Linked DNA regions of Homo sapiens. The protein of the gene in region 3 interacts with the protein of the main gene of each other region in a biochemical or structural test. Each region holds a gene or a part of one and is shown on either strand. Other genes may lie near its edges. The genes, in order: ATM, CDC25A, CHEK2 and CDC25C.

Region 1 (7,354 bases), on a different chromosome or scaffold from region 3:
TGCAGATGAGTACTGAAGGATGGTTGGGAATCCCAAAGAAGCTGACAGAAAGTATATATGCAATCATATTTGGGGAACATGTCCAGTTTGGATGCAGCACAAGGTTTATGAAGGGTAACAGTTGGAGATACAACAGAAAAGACAAAATGGGTAAGGATCATGAAAAGTTTTAGACAGCAATGAGTACATATATTATTAAATAAACAAAGGAGTGTCATAATCAGAGCCATACTTTTGCAAATGTTTTATTAAATATCTATGTTTTGGTGATATAAAGGTGAATAGAACCAGCAGCTCTTGACCTGTTAGGGGTGTGTCAGTTTTGGTCCTGTTTGACCTCAAACACGTTCTTGACCCTTCTGTCGCTCTCTACTGTATGACATAAAGCTTGACTCTATATAGGCAATGTTCCCCAAGCTCTTCTGTCGGCCTGCTACTGGCTGGGCTCAGTAAATAGGAAGCACTGGTGGGAGGCTGGAGGGCAGGAGGAAGCAGCCATATTTTTCCCCCATTCCCTTTCTGCCTCAGTAGAGTCTCCTCTAAGACTACCACTCCCTCATCAGACAAGTCTTCCACGTTCCGCAGTCAAACCAGCCTCTTGATTGCTTCCTCTCTCCTTATCCTTCTCATTAGCATAGTGGCTTCCTACTGTTGCTAACCACTGAGATGCCTTAGTTGTAAGCTGCTGGGCGTCTTAGCTTTTCTCTCACCAGTGTAAACGAATTCTCTCATTAAATCTTTCCATGTTAAATACTCAGAATGGTTTCTACTTTTTTTACTGCATGCTGTCTCATACAGAAGGTAACAAATCTATTCAAGAAAACCTTCACAGATGATAGTTTTGGGGACTCCCAGAACTCTTGAAGCTTGTCCATTCATCCATGACTAAGACTACTAATAAAACAAAAAACCAAGTAAGTTTCAAATTGGGAAGATGAAAAAGTTCCAGAAACTGATGGTAGTGATGGTTGCAGAAAAATGTCAATATAGTTAACACTACTGATCTGTACATTAAAAACAAACAACAACAACAACAACAACAACAACAAACTCATTGTTTTGGGCTTTAAGAACTATACATTTTTAAGTGTTGAATTTTGTTAGTATATTTTATCAAAAAAAAGTAAACACACATCTACAATGAGACATGATAAGGTTGTAACAGAAGTACAATGCTATGGCAACATTTAAGAAGTACTGACTGTACTTGCTGAATGAAGTTTCAGAGATCAGGCATGACCTGAACCTTGAATAGAAGTGTACTAGGAAGACAAAGAGAAGTAGAATACATACAAGAATTTTCAAAGAAACTTCAATTCGTTTGGCATGTCTGCAGCATAAAACAGATGTTAGGAAGTTGAGATCAAGTTGGAGAGGTAGGTAGGATCAGTTCCACAGAGCACCTTGAATAAATAGATAAAAACTGAACTGATGGCCCAGAGGCAACAAACACTTTGATGTATTCTGGCCCACACAACATTTTGTAAAATCCCAGCAAGGCAATAAGGGCTACTTAAGTGGAGTAGTGAGATGCAAAAGTCAGAGTGCAGTATCCTGAAGGATAAAAGGTAGGTGAAGAACAGCAACTAAGTGGAATTCATTGTTCTTTGAATAAATTTGACTTGTGAAAGGGTGACACAGAACATAAGACAGAATGTTCTGTTTAATGGGTGTCTAATGTCTAGTGGGGTCCAGAAAAGTGTTTTTTTGTGTGTATGTTTAAGAATTTAAAAAAAACCTAATTATCTGAACACTAAGGGGAGAAAACTTAACTTCTCTATGTTCAGCAATTGGCACAGTGTTTGGAACATACTAGGCACCCAAAGATTTGCTAGAAAAAAAACATTATGAAGGGACCAATAACAAGAGGAGCTGAAGATGGCGAGGGGGTACTGATAGGAAAAGAATCATGAGTAAATAATAAACCTCATATGAGAAAGATATACACGATATGTATCTATTTAAGATGTAAAATGATAAACGACAAAAGTAAGAGCATTAGGCATGGGGAGGCTTTTTTGTATTGTATACTCCTGCCCATCTGAAATTTTTAGTAAGAATAGAATTATCTCAACTTTCAGACTAAAAGGTATAGTGTGAAAGCTTCAGGGAGATTTGTAACAACAGTAAATAAAATGAATTGCGAGGACAACTGTCTGGGAAGCCATGACAGAAGTCCAAAAGAGAAGTAATGGCAGGCACATTGCGGGATTGGTGGCAGTGAAAATGGAATGTGAATGACAAAGATTTTTAAGATAAGAAAACCATGGCTGGCGTTTTTTGTCCATTAAATGAAAAGCAGGAAGTCAGCAGAGTAGCTGGTTTGTGGAGAAAGAATACTCACACATCGATGTGAATTATTTCAATTAGAAAATGATACTGCTTTCTTAGGGCTTTCTTAACTAGGGGTGATTCTGCCCTCCAGGGGACATACTAGCAATATCTAGAGACATTTTCACTGATCACAACTGGGTAAGGGTAGGGTGGGGAACGGGTGTCCTACTGTAATCTAGTGAATAGAAGCCAGGAATGCTGCTAAACATCCTACAATGTTTGAGCACAGGATAGCTCCCCACAATAAAGAATTATGAGGCCCAAAATGTTAACAGTACTGAGGCTGAGAAACCATGTTTAAGACTATAGTTACCGAAACTCAACTAGATTACCAAACTGCCAAAACTCAGAATTCTTAAGCAAAAGATTAATCAGACATTAACAAAACATTAAACTTGTCATTAAGTTTCTTCAAAAATGGATGGTGGAACCATTTCCGTTTAACGTTTCCTGCAAAATGTGCTTATCAAGAGCCCTGCGCAAATAACATTTTTGTGGACAGCGCTGGGCATTTAAAAGAGGCACAAGACAAATGGGTTTTCCGAACAATAAAATAATAGTAGTAATGGCTGTGAATACTATGGGAGGTTTCATCACAGATGCTTGCCATTTACTTTTAGGGACGTCGCATACGACGTCCGTAAATTACTGGCTCGGGTTTTGAGCTTTACCTGGCTCTCGTCCCCTGTAGTACAATCCTCTTTATTCTTTCAGGGGACAAACAACAACAAAACCCGTCTCTCACACAGACAATACACCCTGACAGACAAGTGACCCACAAACAATCCCTCCTCAAATGAAGGTAAAACTAGGGCTAGAAAACGTTCAACTAATTTAAGGCAATTAACCCTCTGAAATTTTTCGCTGATCAAAGGAACAGGAATTGCTGTTTTAAAATATGCAACTGGCATTTCACACCTCTACACTGGACGACGTATTGCGTGGAGGATGGAGAAGGAAGATCACCCCTACTCCCAAATTCGTAGTTATAAGGGCGGGTTATTAGAAGGGCGCCAGGAAGGTCTCTCTACAAAGATGGGGGGCCGGGGAACTCCCTATTTGCCCTATTTTGGTCCCAACACTGAACCAAGGAAATTGCGCCCAAGGTTGAAGCACACGCAATCCGTCCGTCATGCAGACAAATGCTCTTTCAGGGGTCCTAATTAAGTGTGGAGGCCTGACTTTCCTTCCGAATCCGCCCCAGGTGTTCCACCCCGAGCTTCCCCTCGGGCTTCCCCTCGCCACGCAGCCTCTGAAGAGAGGAGCATCTACATACAAAGAGGCTTAAACTGCCCAGAACCTCCGAATGACGAAGAATCACCGCCAGTCTCAACTCGTAAGCTGGGAGGCAAAACCCCAAAGCTTCCCTACCAAGGGAAAACCTTTGGCCTCAAAGGTCCTTCTGTCCAGCATAGCCGGGTCCAATAACCCTCCATCCCGCGTCCGCGCTTACCCAATACAAGCCGGGCTACGTCCGAGGGTAACAACATGATCAAAACCACAGCAGGAACCACAATAAGGAACAAGACTCAGGTTAAAGCAAACACAGCGACAGCTCCTGCGCCGCATCTCCTGGTTCCAGTGGCGGCACTGAACTCGCGGCAATTTGTCCCGCCTCTTTCGCTTCACGGCAGCCAATCGCTTCCGCCAGAGAAAGAAAGGCGCCGAAATGAAACCCGCCTCCGTTCGCCTTCGGAACTGTCGTCACTTCCGTCCTCAGACTTGGAGGGGCGGGGATGAGGAGGGCGGGGAGGACGACGAGGGCGAAGAGGGTGGGTGAGAGCCCCGGAGCCCGAGCCGAAGGGCGAGCCGCAAACGCTAAGTCGCTGGCCATTGGTGGACATGGCGCAGGCGCGTTTGCTCCGACGGGCCGAATGTTTTGGGGCAGTGTTTTGAGCGCGGAGACCGCGTGATACTGGATGCGCATGGGCATACCGTGCTCTGCGGCTGCTTGGCGTTGCTTCTTCCTCCAGAAGTGGGCGCTGGGCAGTCACGCAGGGTTTGAACCGGAAGCGGGAGTAGGTAGCTGCGTGGCTAACGGAGAAAAGAAGCCGTGGCCGCGGGAGGAGGCGAGAGGAGTCGGGATCTGCGCTGCAGCCACCGCCGCGGTTGATACTACTTTGACCTTCCGAGTGCAGTGGTAGGGGCGCGGAGGCAACGCAGCGGCTTCTGCGCTGGGAAATTCAGTCGTGTGCGACCCAGTCTGTCCTCTCCCCAGACCGCCAATCTCATGCACCCCTCCAGAGTGGCCCTTGACTCCTCCCTCTCCTCACTCCATCTTTCCTGGCCTCTCTCCGGGTGCTTAGCGGACTTGGCCAATAACCTCCTCCTTTTAAACGCCCTGAATTGAACCCTGCCTCCTGCGCATCCTCTTTTTGTGTCACCTTAGGGTTCAGATTTAACTACGCGACTTGACTAGTCATCTTTTGATCTCTCTCTCGTATTTAGTACTTTTAGTCAGCGAGCATTTATTGATATTTCAACTTCAGCCTCGCGGTTAAGAGCTTGGGCTCTGGAATCATACGGCTGGAATTGGAATTCTGTCAGTCGTGTGGCCGCTCTCTACTGTCTTGTGAAGATAAGTGAGATAATCTTGACCTGTGGTGAGCACTCGTGAGCGTTAGCTGCTGTATTTACCAGGTACAGATAAGACAACTACAGTGGATGATAATGTATGTGGTGATAGGGGAGTACTCTGATGGTAGAGGAGTGACTTTGGTTCTCTGCAAACTCAGCCTGAGACTATCAATTCAGTTTGTGGTGAGACCTCGCAGTGTTACCTTGGCAGATGGTAGAAGCCTTCCAGATGGAAGGAAAAATGCGTGTAAAGGCACAAAGTGTAGAAGGACCCTGAAGCTCCAGCGTGAGGCCTGGCATTGAATGAAATATATTTTGTGGGTTTTCAGCTGCTGAAGTCATAGGAATGGATGAGACCAAGAAAACAAAGCTGTTTTTGAGGTATGAGCGGAAGAAGAGATATCAGGAGACTTTCGAAACAGTCATAACGGAAGTTAATATGATCATTGCTAACATTTGCTGTGTTTCAGGCACTGTAAGCATGTATATGGGTCCTTAAAGGGACTCATAGAGGTAGGTACTAGTATTGTTTTTCCTTTTATCATTGAGAAACTGAGGTTTGAAGAGATTAGTGAACTTGCTCTAGATTATACAGTTTGTAAGTGGCTGAACCAGGATTTGAACTAATACAATCTGACTACAGAGGCCACACTCCTTAGCACTAGAAAAGAATGGCATGCCAAGGGCAGAGTTATTTCTAGGAAGATGGGATATAAGCGTCATTGTCAAGTTGTGCAAAGGGGTCAACTTGGTTGAGATCTAAAAAGGAACACTGAATTCGTCAATTCAGAGGCTCGTAGGAAGTAGGAAATCCTTATCTTTTCGTTTGAACCTTGAGTGGAACCTAGATATTCTGGATTAATGTATAAATGAAGTTCATCTTTATATGGTGACACTCATACTCTAGTTGACTACCTAATAGTTCCTCTGCCTTCTTTCAGTTCCGCCAACATACTGTGTTCTTTAACATTGTAGAACCCTTTGGCTATGCTAGTCTCCTTCCCTGAAGTGTTGGTCCTCTAGCCCTTTTTTTGATTGGCACCAGTTAGTTCAGATCTTGGCTTTATTATAAACTCCTCTGAGATATATGTTCCCTGACAGTTTATCTAAAATGATTCTCTCTACAGTTATTTTCTATTACTGTGTTTTTGTTTCCTCAGAGGCATACATCACAATTTGGAATTATGCATTGGTTTATCAATTTACTTGTTTATTGTCACCCTGCTGCCCAGATATGACTTCATGAGGGTAGGATTTGTATCTGTTTAGTTCATTATTTGTCTAGCTATAAGTAGTAAATATTGTTTGCATCTATCAGTGAATGAGCATCTTCTGTTTATGTAGATAATACTGAACTGTTTTGTTTTCTTCAAAGTAATCATTAAGCTGAAGGTAAGAAAAACAAGTTCAAGGAAGTCACACCATGGGGAAAAAAAAGTCAAGTTTAGGGCTGCCTCTTCCGGGAAGTGTCAAATCTTTAGTATATTTAGGAATAAAGGTGCCAAACCTTATGGTTCTTTGGATATTGCTAAGGTATTTTCATTGGTTAGATTACCAGTTTCATTTTCCTTATTGACTCAAGAGGGCTTTAAACTGAGATTGAAGAAGTAAGAAGATTCCTAGATAAAACCATAAGGAATGGAAAAACAAAAATGATAATACTTGTCCACAGGAAGTATATAATCAAATGAAAAGAACTCAAATAACAATCTGTAATCTATAGCAGAGTAAAGCGGAAGTTGTAATAGTGTTGGGGGATGGGGGAAGTCAGAAGAACCACCAGTGAATATAAAAGGAGAAGAGAATCAGAGCCATCTGCTAATAAAATGGGTAGTCAGCTCTTTTTGTTTTTTTTGTCTTGTTTTGTTTTGAGACAGTCTCGCTCTGTCGCCCATGCTGGAGTGCAATTGCGTGATCTCAGCTAACTGCACTTTCCGCCTCCTGGGTTCAAGTGAGTCTCCTACCTCAGTCTCCCCAGTAGCTAGGATTGCAGGCACATGCTACCACACCTGGTTAATTTTTGTATTTTTAGTAGAGACGGGGTTTCACGATGTTGGCCAGGCTGGCTGGTCTCGAACTCCTGACCTCGTGGAACGCCCACCTCGGCCTCCCAGAGTGCTGGGATTACAGGCATGAGCCACCACGCCTAGCCCCGGTAGTCAGCTCTTACTGAGAATATTCAAAGACAGGGCATTCATTTTGTAAGAGACATTCCTTCCTTCATAGGAAGATTGGACCTGGTCTTTTAGTTCCTCCCAATTTTGAGATTCTGTGAGATTGAATCGGGGCAGAGAAACATACTTAATCTTGAAAGATTAAGTAGAATTTAGATGGATGGATAGGAGAAGGACTTTCCCTACCTTTTTACTTCTTGAGATATAGTTATTTGTAGGTATAATATACATAAATATATGTATTTTTTCTCTGTTTACAGACATTCATA
Region 2 (7,031 bases), on a different chromosome or scaffold from region 3:
TTCCCCCCTGTCAGAACTGGAGTTATATATAAGTGCATTCTCTAGGCCATTTTATGGTCTTTATAGAGATTTGCATCTGCTTGCCCTAACTCATTTCAGCAGATTCTCATACTGTCACAGTCCTCAATGCTGATCGGTGTTCACTGATGCAACCTTCTAATAAAAGAAACCTTGTTCTTCACAAGAGGCTATCTCTAGTACCCATTATAAGGTGAATTGCTTCTGGCAAGAGTTCTCTGTAAAGGCTACTGACTACTCAGGGCTGTGTGTGGTCATCAAATCATTTATAATCTTGGGATACATTTTCATATAATCAGTAATGGCTAAAATTTTGCTTTGTATAACAAGTATAACATAGTATGTTTTCATCATAAAAACTAGTGACCCATTCAAGGAAATGAAAGTGGATCAGAGCTCTCATTATTAATCCATGAATTTTGTCTTACAGCTTTCCTCAAATGAAAGAGATAGCAGTGAACCAGGGAATTTCATTCCTCTTTTTACACCCCAGTCACCTGTGACAGCCACTTTGTCTGATGAGGATGATGGCTTCGTGGACCTTCTCGATGGAGAGAATCTGAAGGTACCGTGTGTGTGTGTGTGTGTTCCTATTTGTTCTACTAATTAATTACCTCTGGAGAAGGCATGTGATGTGAAAAAGAACAGCAACAGCAGTTCCCCGGGGCTTGCTTAGCTGATATTTTTGTTCATTTGGTGATAATTCATTTAATAATAGGGCTACCAGCCTTATTAAATCCTTTGGATTGGGGGATGGGGGCATCAAAAGAAGACACATGATCCTTCTTACCCTGAAGGAGCTAACTAACAATCTATATGCAAGAAACATGAAATCAGAACGGTATAGGATGGTACATTAAGGATACTTCCTATCCAGGCCTATCTGGTATTGTTCAGGGAGAAACACACCTAAAGCACTTAAACAAATGTTAGTCTCTACAGGCTCTTTTTAAAATCAGTTTTTCTGTTTCTTTAGAATGAGGAGGAGACCCCCTCGTGCATGGCAAGCCTCTGGACAGCTCCTCTCGTCATGAGAACTACAAACCTTGTGAGTTGTTCTAGTGTGTCTGGAGGAAGCCCTGCGTGATTGGGGCACTGGACAGAGTAGTCCTTAGTTGAGTATAGCCAAAGATTGAAATGCATGATAGGATTTGGGGATCTGGGTTTTAGGCCTCACTTTGGCTACCTACAAATTATGACCTTTAGTCATGATATCTCTCTGCATGTCTCCTGATGTATAAGGAGTGTGGGTTAGGAGGGACCATGGTCATTCCTAGCTTTTACCATCTAGTCAGTTTGAAAAAAGCCTATCTGAAGCCTTTAGCCTGAATACTTTACTTTTTTTAGGTTATTCTCATTTATATTCCACAGAACCTAGCATAAAATTAGACAAGCAACAGTAACTCACAGGATTTTTTTTGTTTCTGTGTTTTTTGTTTTTTTTTTTGAGACGGAGTCTCGCTCTTGTTGCCCATTCTAGAGTGCAGTGGCACAATCTTGGCTCACTGCAACCTCTGCCTCCCAGGTTCAAGTGATTCTCCTGCCTCAGCCTCCCGAGTAGCTGGGATTACAGGTGCCTGCCACCACACCCAGCTAATCTTTGTATTTTCAGTAGAGACGGGGTTACATTATGTTGGCCAGGCTAGTCTCGATCTCCTGACCTCAGGTGATCTGCCCACCTCGACCTCCCAAAGTGCTGGGATTACAGGCATGAGCCACTGTGCCTGGCTGGATGTTTTTTGTTGCTGTTTTGTTTGTTTGTTTTGTTTTGTTTTGTTTTTCATTGAAAATACCTACCTGAGGCTGGGTATTTTCAGGTAGATATTTTCGATTTTAAAAATTATATATAATATATATTTTATATATATATATATATATATATATATACTCACACACACACATACACAGTATAGATTTGTGTTTCCATCAGGGATACTTTCAAACAGAAAGCATAGTATATGTAGATACAGAATCTATAGTGTATGTGTGTATATATATTCAAAATCACATATATATACACACACATACACATGCTATAGATTCGTGTTTTCATCATAGGGATACTTTCAAAGTTAGAAGCAAGAATGTGCCTATACAGATATATACACCTGTATGTTCAGAGATATACACCCTTAGGTACACATCTAAATTGATAAGTTCATATTTTTTAATTCTCAATAACCTGAACTATAATTACAGAACAAATGAGCTACAGTTTTTTTGTTTGTTTGTTTTGTTTTGTTTTTGAGACAGAGTCTCCCTCTGTTGCCCAGGCTGGGGTGCAGTGCAGTGGTGTAGTCTTGACTTGCTGCAACCTCTGCCTCCTGGGTTCAAGTGCTTCTTCTGGCTCAGCCTTCTGAGTAGCTGGGACTACAGGCTTACGCCACCACTCCCGGCTAATTTTTTTGGTATTTTTAGTAGAGACGAGGTTTCACTATGTTGGCCAGGCTGGTCTCGAACTCTTGACCTCAGGTGATCCATCCACCTGCCTCCCAAAGTGCTGGGATTACAGGCATGAGCCACCGTGCCCAGCCAAGCTACAGTTTTGAGATCACTTATGGATTATAGTACATTCATGTGCATAGCTTTTGAGAAAATATGTTAACGCAGTACAAATGTTATGAGTAAATTTACCAGGTCATTTTGATAGGCATAAAATTACATAAAATGTGAGAACACTTTGGAAGTGGCTGTTAGTTTTATAGATTTGATTTTAGAGTCATAAGCATGGGCTTGTAAGCTCTTAATAGTGGGGAAATGTCTTCCACAAATGGTTATTACAAACTAACCATTGCTGGGAGCTGTAATGGAAAATAAACTTCACACAAAAGAGGAAGAAAATCCCCGGTCTCTATGGGAGCAGATGTGGGAGTGATCCATTCTACTGGGGACTATCAGGAAGATTTCAAAGAAGTGACATTGAAATGTTAGCATCAACTTGAAAATGAATGGTTTACTGAGATGTGAAAGGACATTCTGTGCAGAAGGAAAAGCCAGGCCAAGACACATGGAGTCGAGAATAGGCTGAGATGCGTTTAGAGAGCTGACTCTTGCTACCACTGGTCAGATTGGCTTCCCTTGGGCTCTGGAAAATTTGTCTTTATTTATTTATTTATTTATTGAGACAGAGTCTTGCTCTGTCACCCAGGCTGGAGTGCAGTGGTGCAAATCTTAGCTCACTGCAACCACCACCTCCTGGTTTCAAGTGATTCTCGTGCCTCAGCCTCCTGGGTAGCTGGGATTAAAGGCACGCACCACCACACCTGGCTAATTTTTTTGTATTTTTAATAGAGATGGGGTTTCTTCATGTTGGCCAGGCTGTTATTGAACTTGTGACCTCAAGTGATCCCACAGTGTTGGGATTACAGGCGTGAGCCACCGCGCCCAGCCTGGGAAATTAGTCTTTAAAAGACCAAGTAGAAAAAAAGACTTTGAACACAATTTTGAAAGGCATTTGCTACTCTGCCCATCCCCACTCCCTCCAAATTTACCATCTTAACTATACCTTAACCAAAGATGCCCCCATTTTTATTATAACCTGGCTACTGTGCATCTTTTCTGGATTTAAGTGGGGTATTTAAACCCGTTGACCTGCTTAATTAAGCAAGGTGCAAGTAATAAAATGGAGGGGAAGATAGGCAAGCCAAAAATGTGTTCCTGACTGGAAGGTCACACTTCTCTTGACGCAGGATTATGTAGACAGTTTTTGTGAGGGCAAAGGACGTTTTGCTCATCTCTATATAATGTCAGCTGAGTATATATTCATTGAGCACTAAGTGCTCAGTGCCTACTATGTGCCAGGCCCTGTGAGAGTTGCTAGGACTAGATGAATCGGCAGTGTCTGTTGGCTAATTTAGAATTGATCTTAGATCATCCCAGGAAACCTTCGGTTTATTTGTCTTACCATTCAAGTGAACAGGTTTTAATGAAAGATGGGTCTGTCTGTTTTTTTTCCTGTAAGGACAACCGATGCAAGCTGTTTGACTCCCCTTCCCTGTGTAGCTCCAGCACTCGGTCAGTGTTGAAGAGACCAGAACGATCTCAAGAGGAGTCTCCACCTGGAAGTACAAAGAGGAGGAAGAGCATGTCTGGGGCCAGCCCCAAAGAGTCAACTAATCCAGAGAAGGCCCATGAGGTTAGTTTCCTAGGTTCCTTTTTGCTCTAGCACAGATACTGTATTTTTCAGTTCTAAAAATTTCTACTTAGTGGTTCATTTATTTTCTTTGCTAAGATTTGCTGGGGTTTTGTGGGGTTGTGTGTGTGTGTGGGTGTGTGTGTGTTTCTTTTAATAGAGATGGGATCTAGCGATGTTGCCCACGCTGGTCCTGAACTCCTAGCCTCAAGTGATCCTCCTGCCTTGGCCTCCCAAAGCACTGGGATTACAAGTGTGAGCCACCACACCTGGCTGATACTTGGCTGTTTTCATGTTGGTTTTTCATTTGCTTTGAGTATGTTCATAATTGCCTGTTGAAGCATTTTTAAGATGGCTGCTTTAAAATCTTTGTAAGACAAATCCAACATCCATCCATAGTGTTGTTGGCATCTGTTGATTGTCTTTTCCTGTTCAAGTTGGGATTTTTCTGGTTCTTGGTATGACCGGTGATTCTTCCATTGTCTCCTGTATATTTGTGAGTCTCCGGTCTATGTAAATTTTACGTTTTAGCAGGCTTCCTCTGATACTGCAAGAAAGGCATGGGTGGAAGTCCGGGTTCCCCAGCACAAACTCCATTGACACCTTGGGTGGGGACTTGTCTCATTATTGCTGGGAGGGAGTGGAAGTTCATTCCATCCCCGTGGGGTGGTGACTGGGGCACTGTATGACAGCTGGGCAAAGGTGGAGGCCCCCGCTTGCTGTTGGCCATAATTGTTTCTGTGTTGACTAGTAGAATGATTATTGTCTAAAAGTCTTCTGCCTCAATAGGCCATCCTTTGCCTAGGGAGAGCAGGCTTTTCTTGGGGCTTGTTGTGTTGCTGTCTCCAGCTTCATGAGTTGAATGGTTAACTCATTCGTTTTTAATTTTCTTATTTCTGGATAAATCTATTTGAATCTATGAATTTCCCACTGCTTTAGATTTGTCTCATAACTTTTGACCTGAAATGTTTTTATTATCATTTGTTGTAGATATTTTATTTCCTTTTAATCCAGACCTATCATGGCCTATTAAATACTTGATTTTTATAAAGGTCTGTCTTTTTTTTTTTTTTTTTTGAGACGCTCTGTCGCCCAGGCTGGAGTGCAGTGGCGCGATCTCAGCTCACTGCAAGCTCTGCCTCCCGGGTTCATGCCATTCTCCTGCTTCAGCCTCCCAGTAGCTGGGACTACAGGACCCCGCCACCACGCCTGGCTAATTTTTTGTATTTTTAGTAGAGACGGGGTTTCACAGTGTTAGCTAGGATGGTCTCCATCTCCTGACCTTGTGATCCGCCCGCCTCAGCCTCCTAAAGTGCTGGAATTACAGGCGTGAGCCACTGCGCCCAGCCCTGTCTGTCTAATTCTTCAAGTTAATTCATTGCATTGCTCATAGTTGTATAGGCTGTTTTGTTGTTTCCTGTTTCTGAGACAGGGTCTCTCTGTCACCCAGGCTGGAGTGCAGTGGCATGATCTCCGCTCACTGCACTCTCCACCTCCCAGGCTCAAGCAGTCCTCCCACCTCAGGCTCTCAAGCAGCTGGGACTATAGGTGTGTGCCACCAAACCCAGCTAATTTTTGTATTTTTTGTAGAGACAGGCTTTCGCCATGTTGCGCAGGCTGGTCTCAAACTCCTGGGCTCAGGGCAATCCTCCCGCCTTGGCCTCCCAAAGTGCCAGGATCATAGGTGTTAGACACAGCACCTGGCATGGGTGAGCTAGTGTCATGGTTGTCTGGGCCTAAGTCCTATGGTCCTTTGTGTTATTTTTTCTATTTATTCTGTGGCTAGACACACAAAACACTGGTTTATTTGTATGTTTTTCCTTCATTATACTGTCCTTATATTGAGGTTTGGTATTAAGCATTATAAAATGGTGAACTACCTGTGTTTTCTGTGGCATGAAAAGGTTTAAGTAAATCTCATCACAGTCTTAAAAGGTTAGAGAGATGACAGCTAGGAAAACATTTAGCATTTAGGCCTACTGCCTTATCGTATCTGCTTTTGTTTTTAATGCTTTATGAATGTTTTTAAAGTATTGTTCTAAAAGAATATTTTAATAATTGCATAGTATTTTTGTTTTGGGAGAGTTGTTTGGTTTTGGTTTTTGTTCTTTTTGTTTGTGGGGGGCACAGGGTCTAGCGCTGTCACTCAGGCTGGAGTGCACTAGCACGATCACAGCTCAGTACAGCCTCCATGGGCTCAAGCACTCCTCCCGCCTCAGCCCCCCTAGCAGCTGGGACTACAGGCATGCACCACCATGCCCAGTTAATTTAAAAAAAATTTTTTTTTATTTTTTGTAGAAAAGAGGTCTTACTGTGTTGCCCAGGCTGGCCTTGAATTCCTGGGCTCAAGCAGTCCTCCCACCTCAGCCTCCAAAGTATCTGGGACTACAGGCACAGGCCAGTGCACCTGGCCGATAGTGTTTTGACTTACAAGTATACTAGAAATAATTGAATAAATCACCTTCTGGACATTTAGAATTTCCCTTCCCCTGATTTTCCTTTTATTTCTAATTAAAAATGAAATTCTGGGTTATAAGGGCAAGAACATTTGTGAAACTTTACATTGTATACATGTCAGAAAATATCTATCAATATTTAATAATATTCTGGCTGAGTGCTGTGGTTCACTCCTGTAATCCCAGCACTTTGGGAGGACAAGGCGGGTGGATCACGAGGTCAGGAGTTCCATACCAGCCTGGCCAATATGGTGAAACCCTGTCTCTACTGAAAATACAAAAAATAGCTGGGTGTGGTGGTATGAGCCTGTAATCCCAGCTGCTCAGGAGGCTGAGGCAGGAGAATCGCTTGAACCCGGGAAATGGAGGTTGCAGTGAGCAGAGATCACGCCACTGCACTCCAGCCTGGGTGATAGAGTGAGATT
Region 3 (7,627 bases):
TCAGCTCCCACAATTATGTGAGCTAATTCCTTAAAATAAATAACCTTTTTTTTTTTTTTTTTTTTTTGAGATGGAGTCTCGCTCTGTCGCCCAGGCTGGAGTGCAGTGGCCTGATCTCCGCTTACTGCAATCTCTGCCTCTCGGGTTCACGCCATTCTCCTGCCTCAGCCTCCCGAGTAGCTGGGACTACAGGCACCCGCCACCACGCCCGGCTAATTTTTGTATTTTCAGTAGAGACAGGGTTTTACCATGTTGGCCAGGCTGATCTTGAACTCCTGACCTCAGGTGATCCACTTGCCTTGGCCTCCCAAAGTGCTGGGATTATAGGCGTGAGCCACTGCACCCGGGCCATTATATACTCTACGTTCATTTTTCACTAATCCTTGGACAAGTGTTCATAACAGCAATGAAATACATTCAGTGCTATTTTATCTTTCACCTTTGACAATGGATTCAATCTCTTTCATGGCAGCTTCACTTTCAGCTTCTGCGAGTTTTTCATTGATTTCCATTATTTCTATGAGGAATTGCCTGTCCATTTCATAATCTGTCCTTTCAGGAATCTCTATTCCATGGAGCTTTAGCTATTGGGGTAGAAAGCAAGAAAAATAAGTTGAAGAAGCTATGGGCAGAGTAATGTAAATCCTACTCATCCATTAGGAAATAATACCACTAATAGAGAAAACTGCAACTGTCCCGATAATGAAAGACTAAGGGGTATCAAAAGCTTGGACTGAAACAGAAATGCTGGAATGGGATTTCCACTCATGCTACCCAAAACTATGTGACCTTGGTGTGATCTTGGGGTAGTCATTCCTCCACTCAGAGGTTGAACTAGATGTTTGTAAAGATTCTATTCAATTATAAAATTTTCTAGATTGTAAGATACTTTTTTTTTTTTGAGATGAAGTCTCACTCTGTCGCCCAGGCTGGAGTGCAGTGGTGTGATCTCAGCTCACTGCAACCTCTGCCTCCTGGGGAAGCAATTCTCTGCCTCAGCCTCCCGAGTAGCTGGGATTACAGGCACCCGCCACCATGCCCGGCTAATTTTTTTGTATTTTTGGTAGAGGCGGGGTTTCACCATCTTGACCAGGCTGGTCTTGAACTCCTGACCTCGTGATCCACCCGCCTCGGCCTCCCAAAGTGCTGGGATTACAGGCGTGAGCCACCATGCCTGGCCTCTTAAGATACTCTGGAGAGGAAAAAAAAACAAAACAGAAAATGACTCTTAACTAAAAGCTACCATCATCAAATCCTTGAAATTCACAGAAAAAAGCTAGAAAATCACAATTTAAAAAATGCAGTTGAGGCAAGTAATATTCACAGAGAAAATTATACTTGTGCTCTGAGGCTAAATACTATTGGGTCCCTGGACTTTTTTTTTTTTTTTTTGAGAGGGTGCAGTAGTACAATCACAGCTCACTGCAGCCTTGACCTCTCAGGCTCAAGTGATCCTCCTGCTTCAGCTTCCAGAGTAGCTGGGACTACAGGTGTATGCCAACATGCCCAGCTAATTTTTGTATTTTTTGTAGAAATGGGGTGTCATCATGTTGCCCAGGATGGTCTTGAACTCCTGGGCTGAAGTGATCTGACCACCTCAGCCTCTGAAAGTTCTGGGATTACAGGTGTGAGCCACCATGCCTGACCTCAAGCACTCTTCTGCTGAATAAAGGGGACGTGGCTGTCCTACGCCATAATGGGCATCAGGACGTCATACACAGAAGTGTTGGGAAATCACCTTACAAGGTACAGTCCTCTGCTCAGGGGGGCCAGGAGGGTCTTATAGGCATCATTCACCAGGGTCGAATGCTTCTCTGAGAAGTCCTTTTCAGTCTGTTAGTGGAGATGAAGATAGTACTATTACCATCCAAATCACAAAGTTTTTTTGTTTTTGTTTTTGTTTTGACGTTGAGTCATCCAGGCTGGAGTGTGCAGTGGCGCGAACTCAGCTCACTGCAACCTCCACCTCCCACGTTCAAGTGATCCTCCTGCCTTAGCCTCCCAAGAAGCTGGGACTACAAGCATGTGTCACTGCACTGGGCTAATTTTTATATTTTTAGTAGAGACAGGGTTTCACCCTGTTGGCCAGGCTGGTCTTGAACTCCTGACTTCAAGTGATCTGCCTGCCTCGGCCTCCCAAAGTGTTGGGATTACAGGCGTGAGTCACTGTGCCAGGCCCACAAAGTTTTATAATATTCTAATGGGCAGGCACCTAAGGAAGTGGTTAAGTAGAGCTGGTGTGGGATGAGGTGTCTTTATATTCAGCTGATAGGTTTTAAGTTATCTGGGAAGTCAGACAAAAGCTGTGAGTGAATGGCAGCTCTGGGTCTGACAGGCTGGGGTCAGACTGCCATGGGGCAGACACAGCTGATTTTCCAGCTCAGTCCCTGATAATCACATAACCACAAGGCTACTGCCACCCAGTGTGCACACATATTTGGGGATTATTGGGGTTGGCCAATAAGCTACCTGAGACCTCTGGCTGAAGAAATCTGGGTGGACAAGACGCTGCAGTTGCTGGTACCTGTGCTGGAGCTTCGCTGTATCAACTCTGAAGGAACGGTTGCTGGAAGGAAATTGGGAGATTAAATTTATACAACAAATATTTAAAGGTTTATCTACCATGAGCCTGGTTCTTGCTCTTATGGGGAAGATGCAATAACATATAAGCAGTTAATTTCAAAAAGTGGTAAGTCCTATGAAGGGACACAGAACAGAGTCAGAGAGTGTAGCAGATGTAGTGGACAAAGAGATGACACTCAGCTGAAACCTGAATGATGATGAGTAATCAAAGATCAGAGGAAAGAGACGTCCAGGTAGAATTGCAAGAGCAAGGACCTCGAGGTGGGAGCAAGATGGGGATGCCTGAGGAACTTAAAGATCAGCGTTACTGTAGCCCCTCATACATGTTCAGTGACTGGTGGGGAAGATCCCATAGTTAAGGAAAAGGGACATTCCTAAATTACACAGACAAAGATTCTTTGCCTGGCCAAACTTTAGTCAGATTTCTGAACCTTCTCCTAGGCCCAGATGTATGCTTTCTTGTAAAATACAGTTTTGGCAAATAATCTTGCCAAGTCAGTTTAGCTAGAATCCTCGATCCTCATATTTTTGATCATCCTAGATCTCTGATCAGATTCTTCATCCTCTACTATCCCCCAGGTGGTGTCTAAGCAGCCTGGCCTGTCTTCAGCAAGAATCCCGTTAGGTCGGCTTAGCCAGAATCCCGTTTACTCTGCTCCTTGGCTACAAATTTCCTTCTGCCCATGCCCTTTTTGGAGTTGAGACCAATCTCTCTCCCCAACTGCAAGACCCTATTGCAGTGGCCCCTCTACAAGATGGTCTTGAAGAAAGTCTTTCTGGTGCTTGAACAAGTGTGACTGAATCATGTTTTCTTTAATACCACCCTAACTTTTCCACGGCCCAGGTCCCTTCATCCCTGTCTCTCCCGGTTTATTTTAATTCAGCCCCTTTCACATTCTACTCCCAGAGTCTGTCCTATTTCCTTACCAGTTCAGCTCTATCCACACTGCCCCGTCTCTCCAAGAACCTCAGTCTCAGGGGGAAAAACCATTTATTGGACCCTCTCCCTCCAATTCTCACTTTTCCCTCAGGCCTCGCCCACAATATTAAGCTTTTCATGCTTTACTCCCTAATCTCGGATCACACTTCTGCAGTCCTTTCTTAAATACATCAACCCAACTTTAAACCTTACTCACCCTATTCATTCAAGTCTTCCAGTCTCCCAGGCCCTGCCCCTCAAGTACCCTTTCCTCAAGTTCCGCCCCTCGACTTCTCCTTCCCTTTCCCGTAGGTACCGCCCCTCAAATCTCCCTCCCCTCTAGCCTCGGCCCCCCTATTTCCTCTAACTTCAGCGCCCGCCCCTCCAGTCCCGTTCGTCTCCCTTCTCCACACCTCAACGTTGCTTCCCTCAGTCCCCGCCTCTCAATTTCCTCCTGAGAAATCAAGACACTTCTCTCACGCCTGCTCTCTAGACCTCCGCCCCCCCATCAGTCCCGCCTTCTCTTCCGCCAGCCAGATCCGTCCTCCCCTCTCGCAGGCCAGACCTCGACGTGTCTCTCGCCCGGGCCCGTTTCCCGAAACCGTCGCTCGTACCAGTCCATAAGGCTGAAGTAGTCTCGAGTGGGGTCAGGTGCCTGCAGCGCTCGGCACTGTGGGCAGAAGAACCTGTCCTCCCGCCCGGGGCCCCATGGGCCGCCGCAGTTCCAACAGCGGGGATAATTGCTTCCCGCCTGCGACGCAGCATCGCAGCTTAGCGGTCTCCTTCTGGGAACCCCTGTCGGCCAAAACCCCCACACCCGGAGCAAAGCCCCGGCTCTCCCCCGCCACATCTGGCCGGCGGCCTATCTAGCCGTGGTCACTCGTGGGGAAAAGCAAAGAGAGCGTCTAACCAGACTAATGTTGCTGATTGGCTGGGGAGTCGAGGGGGCGGGATCACCCGAGGGGAACCCGGGTTCTAAGTTCCGCTCTCCCTTCTAAACTACAACTCCCAGGAGGCATTGAGGCGGCGCCTGACGGCCACATCTGCTGCTCCTCATTGGTCCGGCGGCAGGGGAGGGGGTTTTGATTGGCTGAGGGTGGAGTTTGTATCTGCAGGTTTAGCGCCACTCTGCTGGCTGAGGCTGCGGAGAGTGTGCGGCTCCAGGTGGGCTCACGCGGTGAGTCATATGGGGAACTTCTGTTGGGTGTTTGGTGGTTCGAATCCCATCTTAAGCGTTTTGTGCGAACGGAGTCTCCTGAGCTTCGCTTTGTCTGTAGTTTTGAGCTGAAGGGGGAGTGTGTGGGCGACTCTCTTCCTTTTCAGTAGATCATCCTCGAGGTGAAGTTCACTTCCCGTATTACTTGCAAGCTGAAACAGGCCTGAACATACAGGATAAGAAGAACAGCGTTGTATTCTTCAATATCAGAGCGAAGTGACTTCGTAAAAATTCTATAGATGTTAGAAATCGTTGCCATTCTTTAGGTTCAATCTATAAAATACTTATAGAGAAGCCAGTCTTAGCTACTGGGCGCTGCAGGGACTGGAAACGCACTGAGCTGTGTAGGAGGATGTTCTGCGTGTCCCTAAATAAGTCCCTAAGTAAATGTATGGGATAGGGTGGCCAGAAGTGGGTAGGAGGGCATCAGTCCTCCTTCGGACTTAGGTTTTCTGCTTGAAAAAAATATTGTGTTTCACTTGAAAGACCTCTGGAATTTTTAAAAAAAATTATTTATTTTTGATATAAAGTATACATATATGATTACCATCTGTACCTTTTTTTTTTTTTTTTTTTTTTTTGAGACGGAGTCTCTCTCTGTTGCCAGGCTGGAGTGCAGTGGCGCGATCTGGGCTCACTGCAACTTCTGCCTCCTGGGTTCAAGCGATTCTCCTGCCTCAGCCTCCTAAGTATCTGGGATTATAGGTACCCGCCACCATGCCCGGCTAGTATTTTTAGTAGAGACGAGGTTTCACCATGTTGGCCAGGCTGATCCCGAACTCCTGACCTCAGGTGATCCACCTGCCTTGGCCTCCCAAAGTGCTGGGATTACAGGTGTGAGCCACCGCGCCCGGCCTATTTTCAATTTTTTGAGGAATCACAATACTCTTCTCTATAGTGGCTATACTAATTTGCATTCCCACCAGTGGTGTATGTGAACAGTGCAAGGTCAGACATAACCAGGTCCATGCACATTTGTGTCTTTCCACAAGATCAGACTTATTGATGTTTTATTTTAATTGTAAAAGCCACGAGCTATATGGAGTTCCCAAGGAAGCAATTTTCCGTAGTACTCCCTGTTTACTTGGTGGTCAGAGCCATGGGCACACAGGCTCAAGCCATTCCACAAGTCAGTCAGTATTGTAAACCGTACACAATAGTATATTTATTTAATATGTAAATGTTATAGATTAAAAATCTTACATTAAAGTAACATTTAACATTCGGAGAAAAGGGGATAGGGAAAGTGGTTATCAAACCAGTCCAAGGAGAGCAATGTGGACAAAGAGAGTGTTTTGGCTTTATCTGGGGTGTCAGTGTCTTGTAAGGAAGAGTTTTTGATGCGGGCAGAGCCTTTGATGGCGGATACTGGGTGTTAATCATGAGTGACAGCAAGATGGTGTCTGTTAGGACAGCCATTTTGACCTAATAAAGTCCTGCTCTTATGACCAAAGAATTTTCTTGTGAGGACTAATAACAAAAGCGTGTACATATTTATATCCTTATCTGGTTTAGTACAGTGTTTTTTTTGAGACAGAGTCTCGCTTTGTCACCAGGCTGGAGTGCAGTGGTGCGATCTCGGCTCACTGCAACCTCCGACTCCCTGGTTCAAGCGATTCGCCTGCCTCAGCCTCCCGAGTAGCTGGGACTACAGGCACGCGCCACCATGCCCAGCTAAGTTTCGTATTTTTAGTAGAGTTGGGGTTTCACCATGTCGACCAGGATGGTCTCCATCTCCTGACCTTGTGATCCGCCCGCCTTGGCCTCCCAAAGTGCTGAGATTACAGGCGTGAGCCACTGTACATGGCCAGTACAGTCTTTATTAATTAGACAAACATCTGGTCCCTGTTGGCATAATGCCTTTTAAAATATAAGATAGAGCCTTTTTCTAAGATAAAATTACTTATGTCAAGAGCACTCTATACAGTTCCCCTTTCTGCACATTCTTTCCAGCATCTGTTTTGCCTATCTTTTATACAAACCATTTTAACTTGGGTGAGATGGTATCTCATTGTGGGTTTTTTTGTTTGTTTGTTTGTTTGAGACAGAGTCTTACTCTGTCGCCCAGGCTGGAATGCAGTGGCGCGATTTTGGCTCACTGCCTCCTCTGCCTCCCGGGTTCAAGAGATTCTCCTGCCTCAGCCTCCCAAGTAGCTGGGATTATAGACGCCTGCCACCATGCCCAGCTAATTTTCATATTTTTAGTGGAGACAGGTTTCACCATGTTGGCCAGGCTGGTCTCAAACTCCTGACCCCAAGTGATCTGCCCGCCTCCGCCTCCCAAAGTGCTGGGATTACAGGCATGAGCCACTGCACCCGGGCCTCACTGTAGTTTTGATTTATATTTCTCCAGTGATCAGTGATGTTGAGCATTTTTTTAATATACCTGTTGGCCATTTGTATGTCTTCTTTCGAGAAATGTCTTTTCGGATCTTTTGCCCATTTCTTTTTTTTGAGACAGAATCTCACTCTGTCACCTAGCCTCGAGTGCAGTGGTGCGATCTCGGCTCACTGCAACCTCCGTCTCCGTCTCCTGAGTTCAAGTGATTCTCGTGTCTCAGCCTACCAAGTAGCTGGGATTACAGGCACGGGCCACCATGCCCAGCTAATTTTTTGTATTTTTAGTAGAGATGTGGTTTTGCCATGTTGACCAGGCTGGTCTTGAACTCCTGACCTCAGATGATTCACCCACCTTGGCCTCCCAAAGTGCTGGGATTACAGATGTGAGGCACCGTGCCTGGCTTGCCCATTTCTTAAATTGGATTATTTGTCTTTCTGCAGTTGAGTTTCATCTCCTTATATATTCTGGTTATTCATCCCTTGTCAGATGGCTAGTTTGGAAATGTTTTTTCCCATTCTGTGGGTTGTCTCTTCACTTTGTTGATTGTTTCCTTGGCTGTGCAGAAGCT
Region 4 (7,031 bases), on a different chromosome or scaffold from region 3:
CTTCATAGGATAGAATATGTTAAAATAGCTTTCCCTCAGGGTTGAGATTAGAAATAATAATCCAAATCTCTGGAGTCCATGGTCTATGAAAGGCAAGTCAATGCCTGGGTAAGTTAAGACCCCAGTATTATAAGGGCACAAAAGACACTAGAGAAATTACGCATGGATAATAATCACATGAAATCACTACTAATTATTATTATTATTTTATTTTATTTTTTGATACAGAGACATGCTTTGTCGCCCAGGCTGGAGTGCAGTGGCGCGATCTTGGCTCACTGCAAGCTCCGCCTCCCGGGTTCACGCCATTCTCCTACTTCAGCCTCCGGAGTAGCTGGGACTACAGGCGCCCGCCACCACGACTGGCTAATTTTTTGTACTTTTAGTAGAGACAGGGTTTCACCATGTTAGCCAGGATGGTCTCGATCTCCTGACCTTGTGATCCGCCTGCCTCGGCCTCCCAAAGTGATGGGATTACAGGCGTGAGCCACAGCACCCGGCCTATAATTATTATTATTTGAGACAGAGTCTCGCTCTGTCGCCCAGGCTGGAGTGCAGTGGTGCAGTCTCGGCTTACTGAAACCTCTGCCTCCTGGGTTCAACTGATTCTCCTGCCTCAGCGTCTTGGGTAGCTGGGATTACAGATGCCTGCCACCACGCCCGGCTAATTTTTTTTTTTTTTTTTTTTTTTTTTTGAGATGGAGTCTCGCTCTGTCGCCCAGACTGGAGTACAGTGGCACGATCTCGGCTCACTGCAAGCTCCGCCTCCCGGGTTCACGCCATTCTCCTGCCTCAGCCTCCAGAGTAGCTGGGACTACAGGCACCCGCCACCATGCCCGGCTAATTTTTTCTATTTTTAGTAGAGACGGGGTTTCACCATGTTAGCCAGAATGGTCTCGATCTCCTGACCTCGTGATCCGCCCACCTCGGCCTCCCAAAGTGCTGGAATTACAGGCGTGAGCCACCGCGCCCGGCCCTGGCTAATTTTCATATTTTTTTTTCAGTAGAGATGGGGTTTCACCATGTTGCCCAGGCTAGTCTGGAACTCCTGACCTCAAGTGATCAGCCTGCCTCAGCCTCCCAAAGTGCTGGGATTACAGGTGTGAGCCACTGCACCCAGCCACTACTAATTATTTTTATTTTTATTTTTTTTTCCTTTTTTTTTTGAGACAGTCTCACTTTGTCACCTGTCCATTCACTGCACTGGAGTGCAGTGGTGTAATCTCAGCTCATTGCAACCTCTGCCTCCCAGGTTCAAGCCATTCTTGTTTCTCAGCCAGGTGCCACCACGCCTGGCTAATTTTTGTATTTTTAGTAGAGACAGGGTTTTGCCATGTTGGCCAAGCTGGTCTCAAATCCTGGCCTCAGGTGATCCACCTGCCTCAGCCTCCCAAAGCGGTGGGATTACAGGCATGAGCCACCATGCCTGGCCTGCTAATTATTTTTAACATAAAATAAACTATTTTACCATGTATGTATGTGTGTGTGTATTATTTATTTGAGACTGAGTCTCCATCTCAGCTGACTGCAGCCCCAGACTCCTGTGCTCAAGCAATCCTCCCAATTATAACTCACTGGAGCCTCAGGCTCTTGGGCCGAGGCGATCCTCTTGCCTTGGCCTCCAGAGTACCTGAGACTACAGGCATGCACCACCAAGTCCCAGCCATTTCTTTTTTTTGGTTGGGGGGTGGGGTAGAGATGTGGTCTTGCTGTGTTCCCCAGCTAGGGAACTCAAAGTCCTGGACTCAAGCAATCCTCTCACCTCAGCCTCCCAGAGTGCTGGGATTACAGGGATGAGCCACAACATCTGGCCTAATTAGCATTTTCCCTCAAACTAGACTGCTCAGCAGAAAGTAATTTTTTAAAAAATTCCATGAGAAGTCCAGGTATGGTGGCTCATGCCTGTAATCCCAGCACTTTGGGAGGCCGAGGTGGGTGGATCACAAGGTCAGGAGTTCAAATCAGCCTGGCCAATATGGTGAAACCCCGTCTCTACTAAAAATACAAAAATTAGCTGGGCGTGGTGCCACACGCCTGTAGTCCCAGCTGCTCAGGAGGCTGAGGCAAGAGAATCTCTTGAACCCGGGAGGCAGAGGTTGCAGTGAGCTGAGATTGTCCCACTGCACTCCAGCCTGGACAACAGAGCAAGATTCCATCTCAAAAAAAAAAAAAAAACAAATTCCATGAGAAGACTGGGCAGGGTGGCTCACACCTGTAATCCTAGCATTTTGGGAGGCTGAGGCAAGTGGATTGCCTGAGCTCAGAAGTTCAAGACCAGCCTGGGCAAGATGGTGAAACCCCATCTCTACTAAAATACAAAAAATTAGCTGGGCGTGGCAGCATGCGCCTGTAGTTCCAGCTACTCAGGAGGCTGAGACAGGAGAATTGCTTGAACCAGGGAGGCAGCGGTTGCAGTGAGCTGAGACTGCGCCACTGCACTCCAGCCTGGGTGACAGAGTGAGACTCTGTCTCAAAATAAATAAATAAATAAATAAGTAAATTCTATGAGATTTGGATTGCTAATGAAAATGTAAATTCTTGTAACTTTTTTAGAAATGAATCGGAGAAAGTATCAAAACCTTAAGGCTTGAGCCCAGGAGTTCAAGATTTGCCTAGGCAACATAGTGAGACCCTTATTTCTAGGGAGAGGAAAAAAAAAAACTTTAAAAATATTGATGCTGTCGGGCATGGTGGCTCACGGCTGTAATCCCAGCACTTTGGGGGGCAGAGGAGGGCAGACTACGAGGTCAGGAGATCAAGACCATCCTGGTCAACATGGTGAAACCCTGTCTCTACTAAAAATACAAAAATTAGCTGGGTGTGGTGGCACGCACCTGTAATCCCAGCTACGTGGGAGGCTGAGGCAGGAAAATCGCTTGAACCCAGGAGGTAGAGGTTGCAGTGAGCCGAGATTGCACCACTGCACTCCACCCTGGGGAACAAGAGCAAAACTCTGTCTCACCAAAAAAAAAGAAAAAAAAGTGATTATAGGCCAGGCAGTGGCTCACACCTGTAATCTCAGCCCTTTGAGAGGCCGAGGCAGGTGGATCACTTGAGGTCAGGAGTTTGAGACCAGCTTGGCCAATAAGACAAAACCCCGTCTCTACTAAAAACACAAAAATTAGCTGGGCCGTGGTGGCACGTGCCTACAGTCTCAGCTATTTGGCAGGCTGAGGAACAAGAATCACTTGAACCCGGGAGGCAGAGGTTGTAGTGAGCTGAGATTGCACCACTGCACTCCAGCCTGGGCGATGGAGCGAGACTCAGTTTCAAAAATAAATGAATAAAAAGTGATTATAAATGGAGATTAGAAGGACAGTATTAAATCAAGAAAAAACTGATAAGAACAGCCGAAAACATGAGTTTATCTTAAGTCAATGTAAGAAAAGAAGAGCAGCTATCTTTTATGGTAATGATTTGGGGAAAGGGATGGGAGGCAGGGAAGAAAAAACGATGTCTAGAAAAGGGGCTTAGATGAGGGATTAGATACAGAACTATCTTAGTGATGAGGTGGCTCCGGAGAGGCTAGATTTAACTTGGAACGACGGATGGCCTAAGGTTTAGATAAAAAGTACCATGGCCTCCTCGGAATAAGGGCTTAAAAGCTAGACTAAGGGGGAAATAAGAAATTAATCTACACTTGCATGTAAAGTGGTAAAAAAAAATCCATGAACAAGTTATGCAAGTTATCCCTACCTGTTAAAACAAACAAACAAACAAACAAAAAACTCCTAAATCCCTTACACTACAGTAAGGGTAATTTTTGTCCTCAAAATGATCAACTGAACATGAGAAATAATGATGACCTACTGTGGAAGATTTGGAGCTGGGTGTCTGTCCTAGGGCCAAACTTTAATAAGAAAAAACAAAAACAAAGAAATTTTCTCCCCTATAGTAATACAGTTTCCTTGTCTAGCATACGAGGTATAAACAGTTCTATGTCTCATTATGATACCAAGTTTCTTCACTCAAAAAATAAAACTGCCAATATATCTAGGTTTCCATTAAACACTCACATTTTCTTTATTTGCAGATGAACTACACATTGCATCTCTCTTTCTATGGCCACGGTCCAAACCATTCGGAGTGCTACAAAGAAGCTGTGCCTAAAAAAGAGAGTTTGCTGAGAACGTCCAGCATCCTCAAGCCACAGGTGCAATGGAAACCCTCTGCCTCCCACCTGAAAAGCAAAACAAAACCCAAAAAAAGAGAGGCTACTCACTGGGCTACATTTCATTAGGTGCTGGTCATGATTCCTGCAGATTAAAACAAACTGCCTGTCAGGTTAGTCCCAAATACTGTTTGATTATTCTTCAGTGGATTGGTGCATCCCAACATTTTTCTATTTCATTCTAGGAGCCCTATTCCTAGTTGATATGTCTCTTCCAACAACAATACATAGGGTATTCTCTGTGGTAAATATCAAGACTCAAGTGACATCCTGGGGATAAGACCCTCATTTTGCCTGCATAACCATATAACATGTTCCAAAGATGAACGAGTTTTATACAATTTACAATTTACTAATTTTCCAGCACAGTGTATTGGGGCTAATTTTTTTTTTTTGAGACGGAATCTGGCTCTGTCACTCAGGCTGGAGTGGCACGACCTCGGCTCACAGCAAGCTCTGCCTCCCGGTTTCACGCCATTCTCCTGCCTCAGCCTCCTGAGTAGCTGGGACTACAGGCGCCTGCAACCACATTCAGCTAATTTTTTGTATTTTTAGTAGAGATGGGGTTTCACCGTGTTAGCCAGGACGGTCTTGATCTCCTGACCTCGTGATCCGCCCGCCTCAGCCTCCCAAACTTCTGGGATTACAGATGTGAGCCACCGCACCCGGCCGGGGCTAACTTTTTAAAAAAATTTAATTTCTGGCGGGGCGCTGTGGCCCACGCCTGTAATCCCAGCACTTTGGGAGTTCGAGGCAGGCGGATCACCTGAGGTTGGGAGTTCGCAACCAGCCTGACCAACACAGAGAAACCCGTCTCTACTAAAAATACAAAATTAGCCAGGCATGGTGGCGCATGCCTGTAATCCCAGCTACTTGGGAGCCTGAGGCAGGAGAATCGCTTGAACCCGGGAGGGAGAGGTTGTGGTGAGCCGAGATCGCGCCATTGCACTTAAGCCTAGGCAACAAGAGCAAAACTCCGTCTCAAAAAAAAAAAAAAAAAAAAAAGGCTGGGCGCGGGGGCTCACGCTTGTAATTCCAGCACTTTGGGAGGCCAAGGCGGGCGGATCACGAGGTCAAGAGATAGAGACCGTCCTGGCCAACATGGTGAAACCCTGTCTCTACTAAAAATACAAAAATTAGCTGGGCGTCGTGGCATGTGCCTGTAGTCCCAGCCTCTCAGGAGTCCGAGGCAGGAGAATCACTTGAACCCGGGAGGCGGAGGTTGTAGTGAGCCAAAATCGCACCACTGCACTCCATCCTGGCAACAGAGCGAGACTCCATCTCAAAAAAAAAAAAAAATTAATTTCTATCCTCCCTCCATGGATTTCATTATCTATCTGGGTTAGAGCATTTAAAGCAATTCAAGCTGGGCCCAGTGACTCACATCTGTAATCCCAGGACTTTGGGAGGCCAAGGGGTGGGTGGGGGTGGGGCGCTGATCACTTGAGGTCAGGAGTTCAAGACCAGCCTGGCCAACATGGTGAAGCCTCCATTTTTGTATTACTAAAATACAAAAATTAGCCGGGCGTGGTGGTGGACGCCTGTAATCCCAGCTACTCGGGAGGCTGAGGCAGGAGAATCGCTTGAACCCAGGGAGGCAGAGGTTGCAGTAAGTCAAGATGGCACCACTGCACTCCATCCTTGGCAACAGAGCCAGACTCCATCTCAAAAATAAAAATAAATACATAAGTAAAATGCTTGGTATGTGCTAGATACACAGTTTATTTACTCCTTACAATAGCTACTTTATGAGAAATGCTATTATTGTCTCCACGTTACAAATAAAAAAAATTAAGGTCCAATGAAGTTAAAAAAAACTTGTCAGAGTCACAACTGGTGAATGAAGTAGTAAGCCAGGAATCCACACACTGATTCCAGAGCTTATACTCTGTACTTTCTTTTTTTTTTTTTTTCTGAGACGGAGTCTCGCTCTGTCGCCCAGGCTGGAGGGCAGTGGCGCAGTCTTGGCTCACTGCAACCTCCGCCTCCTGGGCTCAAGTAATTCTCCTACCTCAACCTCCGAAGTAGCTGCGATTACAGGCATGTGCCACCACATCCAGCTAATTTTTGTATTTTTAGTAGAGACGGGGTTTCACCATGTTGGGCAGGCTGGTCTTGAACTGCTGACCTCAACTGATCCGCCTGCCTTGGCCTCCCAAAGTGCTGGGATTACAGATGTAAGCCACCGTGTCCGGCCACTCTGTACTTTCAATTACTAAGATACAGCACCTTTCACATACAAATAAAAGCCTATACATAAGTGTAGTATACCATTTTCCTTCATTTCCTTATAGATACTTCTGATTATGATGGTTAAAATGAATAGCCTTCATTTTCACAACACTATTTAGATGTGGAAAACTTAGAAACTGTTCAAGGTAAGGAACTAGGCCTCAAAGCCCACTTATACCCAGTATGAAAGGTTTTGTACTCTGCAGAGTCTGCACAGGATAAAATCTCTATGACCAGTGCTAAAAGGCTTTTGTGTGGGGTTCATTTAACAACAGAACTTACATCCCAGCTAAATGCACTTCCTGAAGTCCTGAAGAATCCAGGTGACCTGCAATCAAATATAAAGAATCAGTAAAAGGAGTTATTCTTGTCCATGCATCCTGTTTTTCCTTCAGATTTTCTTCATTACCAGTAAGCCGTATTAATTTCAAGGACTGAGCTTTTGAATACAAAGCCTCTCGATTGGTACCCATTTCATGGTACAAGGTACAATTTCACAGAAACGTAAGAATTTATATGTGTCACTAAAAGAAATCAAGTGTTGGGAAACACTACACTATGCTACCTATGGAGTTTTTTTTTTTCTTATGGGTAGAAAAGAAAGGTTATCACTCAGAAAATCTGAAAT

Evidence for each region.
Region 1: of the proteins of CHEK2 (region 3) and ATM, one has a biochemical effect on the other in vitro, tested with the Homo sapiens proteins (6 studies listed by BioGRID, with this or other methods).
Region 2: of the proteins of CHEK2 (region 3) and CDC25A, one has a biochemical effect on the other in vitro, tested with the Homo sapiens proteins (5 studies listed by BioGRID, with this or other methods).
Region 4: of the proteins of CHEK2 (region 3) and CDC25C, one has a biochemical effect on the other in vitro, tested with the Homo sapiens proteins (14 studies listed by BioGRID).

What each region holds. Positions count from the first base shown.
Region 1 is NC_000011.10:108,218,713-108,226,066, forward strand, and holds the start of ATM (serine-protein kinase ATM), read left to right. Parts: upstream 1-4,354; 5' UTR 4,355-4,474; exon of another isoform or gene 4,475-5,424; intron 5,425-6,071; exon of another isoform or gene 6,072-6,862; intron 6,863-7,354. Other genes in the region: protein NPAT, read right to left, coding at 3,788-3,824.
Region 2 is NC_000003.12:48,171,406-48,178,436, reverse strand, and holds part of CDC25A (M-phase inducer phosphatase 1), read left to right. Parts: intron 1-448; coding exon 449-583; intron 584-994; coding exon 995-1,066; intron 1,067-3,979; coding exon 3,980-4,153; intron 4,154-7,031. UniProt on the Homo sapiens protein: Tyrosine protein phosphatase which functions as a dosage-dependent inducer of mitotic progression. Directly dephosphorylates CDK1 and stimulates its kinase activity. Also dephosphorylates CDK2 in complex with cyclin-E, in vitro.
Region 3 is NC_000022.11:28,738,821-28,746,447, reverse strand, and holds the start of CHEK2 (serine/threonine-protein kinase Chk2), read left to right. Parts: upstream 1-4,627; 5' UTR 4,628-4,679; intron 4,680-7,621; exon of another isoform or gene 7,622-7,627. Other genes in the region: iron-sulfur cluster co-chaperone protein HscB isoform 1 precursor, read right to left, coding at 440-584, 1,744-1,833, 2,470-2,566, 4,117-4,352. UniProt on the Homo sapiens protein: Serine/threonine-protein kinase which is required for checkpoint-mediated cell cycle arrest, activation of DNA repair and apoptosis in response to the presence of DNA double-strand breaks.
Region 4 is NC_000005.10:138,321,799-138,328,829, forward strand, and holds part of CDC25C (M-phase inducer phosphatase 3), read right to left. Parts: intron 6,732-7,031; coding exon 6,686-6,731; intron 4,257-6,685; coding exon 4,223-4,256; intron 4,107-4,222; coding exon 4,017-4,106; intron 1-4,016. UniProt on the Homo sapiens protein: Functions as a dosage-dependent inducer in mitotic control. Tyrosine protein phosphatase required for progression of the cell cycle. When phosphorylated, highly effective in activating G2 cells into prophase.